Linked DNA regions of Homo sapiens: region 1 is linked to region 2. A link means that fine-mapping ties the variant in region 2 to the expression of a gene that starts in the linked region. Tissue or cell type: stomach. Region 2 holds a variant in brackets; the other region holds the start of a gene. All regions are shown on one strand. Distances are between the middles of the regions.

Evidence for each region. PIP is the estimated chance that this variant, and not a neighbour inherited with it, causes the effect.
Region 1: CAPN10 starts here. The variant in region 2 is fine-mapped to the expression of CAPN10 in stomach (GTEx, PIP 0.94).

What each region holds. Positions count from the first base shown.
Region 1 is chr2:240,583,837-240,588,981 of GRCh38, reverse strand. CAPN10 (calpain 10) reads right to left here and starts at 2,248. Exons shown (of 12, transcript NM_023083.4): 1 at 1,930-2,248. The coding sequence starts at 2,070. It overlaps CAPN10-DT (CAPN10 divergent transcript), which reads left to right and starts at 2,666. Exons shown (of 1, transcript NR_103792.1): 1 at 2,666-5,145. RefSeq lists a silencer at 1,982-2,211 and enhancers at 1,411-2,237, 2,176-2,470, 2,522-2,701, 3,692-4,061, 4,432-4,501.
Region 2 is chr2:241,523,009-241,528,153 of GRCh38, reverse strand. No RefSeq gene overlaps it. Among named protein-coding and RNA genes, the nearest start is that of STK25, 17 kb to the right of the region's middle. The variant T/C (reference allele first, on the strand shown) is at 2,982.

The DNA of each region.
Region 1 (5,145 bases), 940 kb after region 2:
TTTCCCACACCCCCTAACTATCATATACCTTCCCCTTTCTCCCCGTCTACTCAAAACATCCACACTGCCCTTGCCCACCCCTCTGAGCTTCGACCTTGCCTCCTGCTTCTGGACCTGACCCTCTCTCCTGCCCTCAGAGCCTGGGCTCCTCTCACAACTCCTTCCCTTCCAGCTCCCCGGGCAGAATCCCACCCCCATGTTCTTTAAGACATTATCTCTCAGCACCATAGTCTCCTTCAGGCTTCTCTTCATTACAGCTCTTGAAAGAGCTGCCATGCCCACTACCTGCTTCCCATTCACTCTCCACACAGGCTCCTCTAGCTTCTGAGCCAATCATGGCCCCTAAACTGCCTCGATCAATGTCGCTGTCACCTCTATGTTATCAAACCCACTGGGCTTCTCTTGGTCCCAACTCTCTTCCCCAACTACTCAGCAGCATTCACAACAGCAGAACAGCCATCTGCTGCCCCTGAGGTGGTCCCCACTCAGCTTCTGTGAGGCCGCATGCTCCCCGGGTGTCCTCTCCCTCACTGCCTGCTGCTTCTCAAGTCTATCTGTCAGGGCACCTGCCTGACCCCAAGAAATGTTAGGGTTCCTCAAGGCTCAGCCCCAAGGCCCCCTTCTTCTTTACTGATACTCCCCCGAGACACTCTCCCAGGCTGTGGACTGTAAACCATCTAATATGCTCCGCCTCCCAGAAGAATGCCTCTAGCCTATCCCTGCTCCGTATCCACCTGCCTCCAGGACAGATCCACCTGCCTCCAGGACAGCTCCACCTGAAGACGTGAGAGCAAAGCCCAACTCTAGGTCACCCCCAGGCTCTGTCCCAGGACCACCATCCACCCACCTGTTCAGGCCAGAAACCCAGAAGGCATGTTGATCCCTCCACTATCCTCACCCTCTATTTCAATCAGTCACTATGGCCTCTCGATCCCCCCTGCAAGGTACGTCTCAAACCAATCTACTCCAAACCCACATCCTAACAGTCGTCAAGCTAATCTGAGCCCCTTCATCTTTCTCCAGGACCACTACAATGGACCCTTGCATTCTTGCCCCGACAACCCACTTCCCACCCAGCAGCAAGAGTGAGCTTGTAAAAACACACATCCAAGAGAACCACTCCTCTACCAAAACCCTCTAGTGGCCTCCAGCTGCACCTAAAATCAATCTTTTAACAAAATAAAACCCAAATTCCAATGACAAGGCTCTACATGGTCTGACCCTTGCCTCCTCCCAGGCCCTTCAGTGTTGTCCAAGGAAACCAGGTGGCCTGTCAAAGCCATCTCAGTCACGAGAGCCCAGAAGTTCCAGCTCTGTTCGAAGACTGGCGGCCATCAGTTGTCTCCGCTAAGACCGCATCCACTTAGGGCAAGGTTGCTCCCTGGGCAGTCTTATTCAGCAGATAAACCATTTCTAAAAATATGAACACAGCACTCGGCCAGGGCATCCCTTGGAGGTGCCATTTCTAGGTGTTACAACTGGAAAGGCAGGTGCACAAAATCCAAAACTGAAATTCTATCACGCTTTGCTTTGTGGGCTCGGCCTAGCCACTTCAGAGGGGCACGAGCGGCCCTCTCTGCGGGAGGAGCAGACACAAACGCTCTTCAGGGCGAAAGCAAACAGGTGGGGCGGGGTTTGGGGCTCTGTTAAAACGCCTCTCGCAGCGCTCTGAGCCTCCTGGATTGGAGCTCTCGCAGGCGGAGGCCACGACCTAGTTTAGCGTCCTTAGGGTAGCGCCGAGTCCTGCTCGTTCTGGGCGGGGGTATGAAGGAGGTACGAAAAGAGGGGGCCGGGCGCCCACTTCTGAGGAGAACAACGGCGGACCCTGCGTTCGGAGCTACCCTGGCCGCCCACCCCGCCCCGCTCCCTGCGAGGAGCGGAGATCTCAGAAACCAGAAACGGCGCCCACCGCACCCCACACGGCCCCACCTGGGGCCGCCTCCACGTGATGTCCTCGCGGAACTGGGCCAGCGGCGTAGACAAGTCGCAGAAGAGCGAGGAGTCCGCGGCGGGGAAGGCGGCGTCCCGGAACAGCTCCCTCGCCGGCGTCGCGCCCCGGCCCGCCCGCATCCTCGGCTCCGCGGGCTCCCATCTGCAGCCGGTTGCCTCGGGGTCGCAGCCCCGGAGAGAAGGCGAGTCAGCCGCCGCCGCCTCCGGCCCGCCCCGCCCGTTCCCCGCCCGGCCCAGCCCTCCAAGCCCGAGGGCCCCGCAGGTGCTGGACCAGGCCAGTACGCCGGCCCGCTAGTCTCCCATTGGTAACCAGGCGGCAGCCAACCGGGCGTGGGGTCTCGGGTCACGTGACAGGCGGCCCAATCGCACTCGCGCGACGGAAAGCGCCACGGACGTCGGAGGCCCAGGGGGCGGGGCTCCCGAGCTCCGCTCTTTCGTGGTCGGGCGGCGGACCGCACTGTATTTTTTCCTTCCGGGGGCGGCGGAGCCCAGGGCTATCCCGGCCTCCGCTCATACCCGGAGGGCCGGCAGGCGTTCAGTCCTCCAGCCGGTGAGGCTCGGGCCGGGGTGTCGGGACCGCCTGAACACGCGGGCTCTGGGAGCTTCAGGGACCAGGGAGCCACCTCGGCCGAGTTGCGTCGCAGACTACAGCTCCCAGCATGCGCCGCCGCTCCCAGCATGCACCTTCCTCCCGAAACGCGTCTCTGCTTCCGGCGCTCTGCTGCGGAGGCCGTGGCCGCGGGTAGTTGGGAGGAACCGAGATTTACGCTTGGTAAGGCAAGTTGCGAGCTGTCCGGCGCCGGTCGAGTTCCTGCCGCCGTCGTCGTCAGGCAGGGGAGAAGGGGGCCTCAACCCCTCTAGTGACAGCTGTTTGCTACCTAATAGGGCTTTTCATCCCACCGGGCCCCAGGGCCTTCGTTAGGAGCCCAGCAGGCTCAACTTCTTGCTGTGGTTCTGGAAAAGGGAGTGACCACCTGGCTCAACACCTCTCTCTGTGATGTGTTTGGGAGTTTTGGGAAATGAGACGGCTCCGAGGGAAGAGCTTGAGGGAGCGGCGTCGCACTCGTTCGACCTTCCCGGGCCTGGGCTTTGTTTCTAGGCATTTTAGGTTGAACGCTCTACATCTTAACTGGGGGCAGGGGAGGTGGCCAGAGCATCCCGCTGAGCGTTTTCCGATTCCCCAGATGGCCAGGCACCTGGTCCTGGTGGCTGGACAGTGACCCCGTGGACGCACATTTACAGCTATAGCCATTCAGTGCCGCGGGGAGGTGAGGATAGTGATCCTGGGACCTGCTCGAGGATTCACCCTTGCCCCAAGAACCTGTTCCATTCCCAGGAATGAAGGCGGTCAGGCAGGGGAGGAGAAGGGGGCCTCAACTCTTCTAGTGACAGCAGTTTGCCACCTAATAGAGCTTTTCAGATTTTGCCTCCTCAGGCCATTTTACTCAGCCTCGGACTATCAAGGATGGTCACATTGAAGCTGTTTTTCTGCAGTCAGGAGCGAAAAGTCCCGGCTGTTGAAGGAGAAACTGAATCTGGTTCAGGAGTCCCAGGTTCCTCCCTCTGAGAGGCCAGGTGGGGCCTGCGTGAGTAGCAGTTGTTCAGGTGGCAGGACACTGCTGTTTTCATCCCACCTGGCCCCAGGCCCCTGATTAGGGGCCCAGAGTGCTTATGTACTTGCCTCGGTCTGAGAAAGGGAGTGACTGCATAGCCCAACACCTGTGGGATGCCTCACTGCCCAGATGTTTCATCTCCGGGATGCTTCATTGCCCATTCAGCACCCTCTATGGTGCTGACTCTTCCGGAAGATGTTTCTGATTCCTTGCTAGGCTGGTGGTTGCACCATAGCTGAGAGGACTCAAGAAGAGCCTGGTCTCAGCTTCACCTAGGAGTCCCGGAGGAGTAAGAAACACGTATCTTTCCTGTTCTGGGCACATATGGGTGGGTAGCAGAGCTGAGGCTAGCTGAGGATCCCGACTCTCCTTTGGGAGCCTTTGTTGTGCCGCTCTCCCAGGCTGATCAGATCTGGAGAGCTAACAGCTTCCTGTGGCCACATCTGTGTCCAAGGCTGGGCCCATGCCTGTAGCCAGATTGCCAGGATCTGGAAGGGGCCAAGAGACAGCTGGTGCTGGGTAGGCAGCAGCCCTGTGTCAACCTGCCCCCACTATTACCCCATGCTGTGATTTGCATGTGGTCTGCCCCTGCCCAAAATGGTATTGAAATTTGAGCCTCAATGAGGCAGTGTTAGGAGGTGGTGCCTAGTAGGAGGAGTTTGGGTAATAGGGGTGGATCCCTCATGGATAGGTTAGTGTCCTTTGTGGAGGGGTGAGTTCCCATGAGAGCTGGTTAGAGAGTCAGCCTTCCTGCGGTTGTCTCTTGCTTCCTCTCTCGCCATATGGCCACGTAATCTCTTTGTGCATGCCTCTCCCCTTCTACTTGCTGCCTTGAGTTGAAGTAGCATGAGGCCCTCACCAGGTGCAGCTGCCCAATCTTGAAATTTCCACCAGAATTTTGAGCCAAATAAACCTGTTTTGCTTTTTTAAAAAAATAAATTCCCCCACCTTGGCTGGGCGCAGTGGCTCACGCCTGTAATCCCAGCACTTTGGGAGGCCGAGGCGGGCGGATCACGAGGTCAGATCGAGACCATCTTGGCTAACACGGTGAAACCCCATCTCTACTGAAAAAAAAAAAGAAACAAAAAAATTAGCCAGGTGTGGTGGCGGGCACCTGTAGTCCCAGCCCCTCACTCGGGAGGCTGATTGAGGCAGGAGAATGGTGTGAACCCGGGAGGCGGAGCTTGCAGTGAGCCCAGATCGCACCACTGCACTCCAGCCTGGGCGACAGAGCGAGACTCCGTCTCTAAATAAATAAATAAATAAATAAAACAAACCCAACCTCAGGTATAGCAGTGTGAAACAGACTAAGACATTCCACATGCCCTGTGGTCCCATCTGCTACCCCAGGGTGCAAAGATGTTCCCTCAGCCCTGAAGAATGACATTCCCCCCGGCTCCTGGGATATCTGGAGGGGTTGTAAGCAGCTTGGGTTGGTGAGATAAGGAGTTTGGGGGGCAGCTGATTCATGACCCTGGCCTCCTCAACTGCAGGCTCTTGGTCTGAAGTACTGTAATTAAAGTATGAGAGCCTCGGGGCCCTCACTTCAAGGAGGGAAGAGCATCCCCATGCCTCAGCGTTT
Region 2 (5,145 bases):
TTCCTCATATAAAAGGAATCAATCATGCAGCATTTGTCCCTTTGTGACTGGCTTATTTCACTGAGCATAAAGTCCTTTCGGTTTATCCATGTTGTGGTCAGGAATTCTGTCCTTTTAAGGCTAATAATATTCCAGTGCATGGATAGGCCACATTTTATATATCCATTCGTTGATGGACTTCGGGTTTTTCCCCACCTCTTGGCTATTGCGCATAATGCTGCTATGAACATGGAATACAAATATCTCTTTAAAGGGGCCGGGTGCAGTGTCTCATGCCTGTAATCCCAGCACTTTGGGAGGCCAAGGCAGGAGTATTGCTTGAGTCCAGGAGTTTGAGACCAACCTGAGCAACATAGTGAGACCTTATCTCTAATTTAAAAAATAAGAGGCTGGGCCTGTAATCCCAGCACTCTGGGAGGCCGAGGTGGGTGGATCACCTGAGGTCAGGAGGTCGAGACCAGCCTGATCAACATGGAGAAACCCTGTCTCTACCAAAAATTCAAAATTAGCCCAGCGTGGTAGCGCATGCCTGTAATCCCAGCTACTCGGGAGGCTGAGGCAGGAGAATCACTTTTACCCAGGAGGCGGAGGTTTCAGTGAGCCGAGATGGTGCCATTGCACTCCAGCCTGGGCAATAAGAGTGAAACTCCGTCTTAAAAAAAAAAAAAGAAAGAAAGAAAAGAAGGCCGGGCACGGTGGCTCACGCCTGTAATCCCATCACTTTGGGAGGCTGAGGCAGGTGGATGACAAGGTCTAGGAGTTTGAGACCAGCCTGGTCAGTATGTTGACACCATGTCTCTATTAAAAATACAAAAATTATCTGGGCATGGTGGCCTCGCGCCTGTAGTCCCAGCTACTCGGGAGGCTGAGGCAGAAGAATCGCTTGAACCCAGGAGGCGGACGTTGCAGTGAGCTGAGATGGTGCCACTGCACTCCGGCTGAGGTGGGTGGATCACGAGGTCAGGAGATCAAGACCATCCTGGCCAATATGGTGAAACCTTGTCTCTACTAAAAATACAAAAATTAGCTGGGCATGGTGGTGTGCACCTGTAGTCCAAGCTATTCAGGAGGCTGAGGCAGGACAACTGCTTGAACCCAGGAGGCACAGGCTGCAGTGAGCAGAGATCGCGCCACTGCACTCCAGCCTGGGTGACAGAGCAAGACTCTGTCTCAAAAAAAAAAAAGAAAAAAAAAGAAAAAGAAAAGAAAACAAATATCTCTTTAAGCTCCTGTTTTTAATTTGTGGGGAGTATATGCCCAGAAGTGGGATTCCTGGATCATACAGGGCTACGGTTTGAATGTGTGCAGCAAAGTTCATGTGTTGAAAACCTAATCCTCAAAATGCAGTGGTGTCGGGAGGTGGGGCCTAGTAAGAGCCATTTAGGGCACGAGGACTCTGCCACCATGAATGGTTTCATGCTGTTATCGCGTGAGTGTGTCAGTTAGCTCACAAGTGGCTTTGTTATAAGTGAATACGGCCCCTCTTGCTCTCGTGCCCTTTCGCTGTCTCTCTCTCTTGCCCTTCCACCTTCCACTACAGACGACGCAGGAAGGCCCTCACCAGATGCTGGTGCCCTGCCCTTGGACCTCTCAGCCTCCAGAACCATGAGTCAAATAAACATCTATTGCTTATCAATTACCCAGTTATCAGGGGAACCCGCTCCTAATATTTCAACGTAGGTTCTATTTTCCATAAGTGTCGGCTGGTCTGAGAAATAGAGAAAGAGTACAAAGAGAGGAATGTTACAGCTGGGCCGCCGGGGGTGACATCACATATCGGTAGGACCGTGATGCCTGCCTGAGCCACAAAACCAGCAGGTTTTATTAAGGATTTCAAAAGGCGGGGCGGGGGGGTATGAACAGGGAGTAGGAACAAAGATCACATGCTTCAAAGGGCAAAAGGCAGAACAAAGATCGCATGCTTCTGAGGAAACGGGACAAGGCAAAACAGAACTACTGATAAGGGTCCATGTTCAGCGGTGCACGTATTATCTTGATAAACGTCTTAAACAACAGAAAACAGGGTTCGAGAGCAGAGAACCGGTCTGACCTCAAATTTACCAGGGTGGGGTTTTTCTCTACCCTAGTAAACCTGAGGGTACTGCAGGAGACCAGGGCGTATCTCAGTCCTTATCTCAACCGCATAGGACAGACATTCTCAGAGCGGCCGTTTATAGACCTCCCCCCAGGAATGCAATTCTTTTCCCAGAGTATTAATATCAATATTCCTTGCTAGGAAAAGAATTTAGCGATATCTTCCCTACTTGCACATCTGTTTATAGGCTGTCTGCAAGAAGAAAAATATGGCTCTTTTTGCCCGACCCCGCAGGCAGTCAGGCCTTATGGTTGTCTTCCCTTGTTCCCTAAAATCGCTGTTATTCTGTTTTTTCAAGGTGCACTGATTTCATATTGTTCAAACACACATTTTACAATCAATTTGTACAGTTAACACAATTATCACAGGGTCCTGAGGTGACGTACTTTCCCAGTTTACGAAGATAACAGGATTAAGAGATTAAAGTAAGACAGGTGTAAGAAATTATAAGAGTATTATTTGGGAAGTGATAAATGTCCATGAAATCTTCACAATTTATGTTCCTCTATCGCAGCTCCAGCTGGTCCCTCCGTTCGGGGTCCCTGAATTCCCGCAACACCTGTCTTAGGTATTCTGCTATAGCAACACACAGTGAGCTATGATGTATGGGAATTCTGTTTTTAGTTTTTTGAGGAACCACCATTCTGTTTTCCACAGCAGCTATACCATTTTACAATCCCACCAACAGTGCACAGGTTCCAATTTTCCCACAGCTGTGCCAACACTGGTTATTTTATGTTTCTTTGATAGTAACCATCCTGATGGGTGTAAAGTGGTATCTCAGTGGGATTTTGATCTGTTTCCCTAATGATTAGTGATGGCGGGCATCTTTTTGTGTGCTTCTTGGCCATTTGTATGTTTTCTTTGGGAAAATGTCTATTAAAGT[T/C]GTCTATTCTTCAATTGAGTTGTTTGATGTTGCTGAGTTGTAGGAGTTCCTTATATATTCTGGATATTAAACTCTTATCAGATATATAATTTGCAAGCATTTTCTTCCACGGATTCTCTTTTCACTCTCTTGAGAGTGTCCTTTGATGTACACAAGTTTTAATTTTGATGCAGTTCAATTTAATTTTTCTTTTGCTGCTTGTCCTTTTGGTGTCACATTTCAGAAACCATCACCAAATCCAAGATCACAAAGATTTTTTTCTGATGTTTTCTTCTGGGAGTTTTATAGCTTTAGCATGGTTTTGGTTCTATGGATTGTGCTTTGGTATTATATCTAAGAACTCTTTTCCCAGGTCACAAGGATTTTAGATATTTTCACCTAAAAATTTTATAATGTTATATTTTTTACATTTAGACCTATGACCCATTTATATCAATTTTTGTATAAAGCTTGTGGTTTAAGTTGAGATTACCTCTTTTTTTGGTATATGAATGTCCAATTGTTCCAGCGCCCTTCATTGAAAAGACTATTCTTCTCTCTGTTGACTTGTTTTTGCACCTTGTCAGAAATCAGTTAGCTGTATGTGTGTGGCCTACTGCTGGATCCTATTGTTCAAATGACCTGTGTATATATCCCTTTACCCAAACTACACTGCTTATAGGAAGGCTTAAAAGTGGGGAGTACGATTTAACTTTATTTTTCTGTTTGAAAATTGTTTAGAGTATTATAGTGTCTTTGCTTTTCCATATGCATTTTAGAATCAGCTTGTCTATGTCTTGTCATAGCTTGTCCAGACCGAGAGACATCTGGGGACAACCAATGGGTAACTCATAGCCATTCAGTGGTACTTTGAATTCTGGTTGTATTAGTCCATTTTCACACTGCTGATAAAGACATATCTGAGACTGGGTAATTTATAAAGAAAAAGAGGTTTAATGGACTCACAGTTCCACATGGCTGGGGAGGCCTCACAATCGTGGCAGAAGGCAAAGACATGTCTTACATGGTGACAGGCAAGAGAGAAAATGAGAACCAAGCAAAAGTGGTTTCCCCCTTTTATAAAACCGTTAGATCTCGTGAGACTTACTAGTTACCATGAGAACAGTATGGGAGGAACCGCCCCCGTGATTCAATTATCTCCCACCAGGTCCCTCCCACAACACGTGGGAATTATGGGAGCTACAATTCAAGATGAGATTTGGGTGGGGACACAGCCAAACCATATCACTGGTCTTTCCTAATCCACCTGCTGCTATTTCCTGCTCAGAAACCTCAAGTATCTGCTCCATTAGTTGCGTCCAGATTTTATAGCTGCATTCCACAGGAGAGGCAGGTGGAACTTGCTTACTCCATCTTACCTGGAATTGAAACCCTCTTGTTAATTTTTAATAGTGTGATAATGGCATTGTAGTTATATTTTTAAAGCCCTTATCTTTTATTTATTTATTTATTTATTTATTTATTTTTTGAGTCGGAGTCTCGCTCTGTCTCCCAGGCTAGAGTGCAGTGGCGCGATCTCGGCTCACTGCAAACTCCGCCTCCCAGGTTCACGCTATTCTCCTGCCTCAGCCTCCCGAGTAGCTGGGACTACAGGCACCCACCACCACGCCCGTCTAATTTTTTTGTATTTTTAGTAGAGACGGGGTTTCACCATGTTAGCCAGGATGGTCTCGATCTCCTGACCTTGTGATCCACCCGCCTCGGCCTCCCAAAGTGCTGGGATTACAGGCGTGAGCCACCGCGCCTGGCCTTAAAGCCCTTATCTTTTAGAGATGTAAACAGAAATATATATGGATTAAATAATTATTTAATTATTTATTTATTTTTATTTTTTTGAGACAGAGTCTCGCCCTGTTGCCCAGGCAGGAGTGCAGTAGCATTATCGGCTCATTGCAACCTCCACCTCCAGGTACAAGCGATTCTCCTGCCTCAGCCTCCCAAGTAGCTGAGATTACAGGCATGTGCCACCACGCCCTGCTAATTTTCGTATTGTTAGTAGAGATGGGGTTTCACTGTGCTGGGCAGGCTGGTCTTGAACTCCTGACCTCTAGCGATCCGCCTGCCTCGGCCTCCCAAAGTACTGGGATTATAGGCATGAGCCACCGCACCTGGCCTGGATTAAATGATTTTTTTAAGCCACAATGAGAACTATTTTTAAAAAATA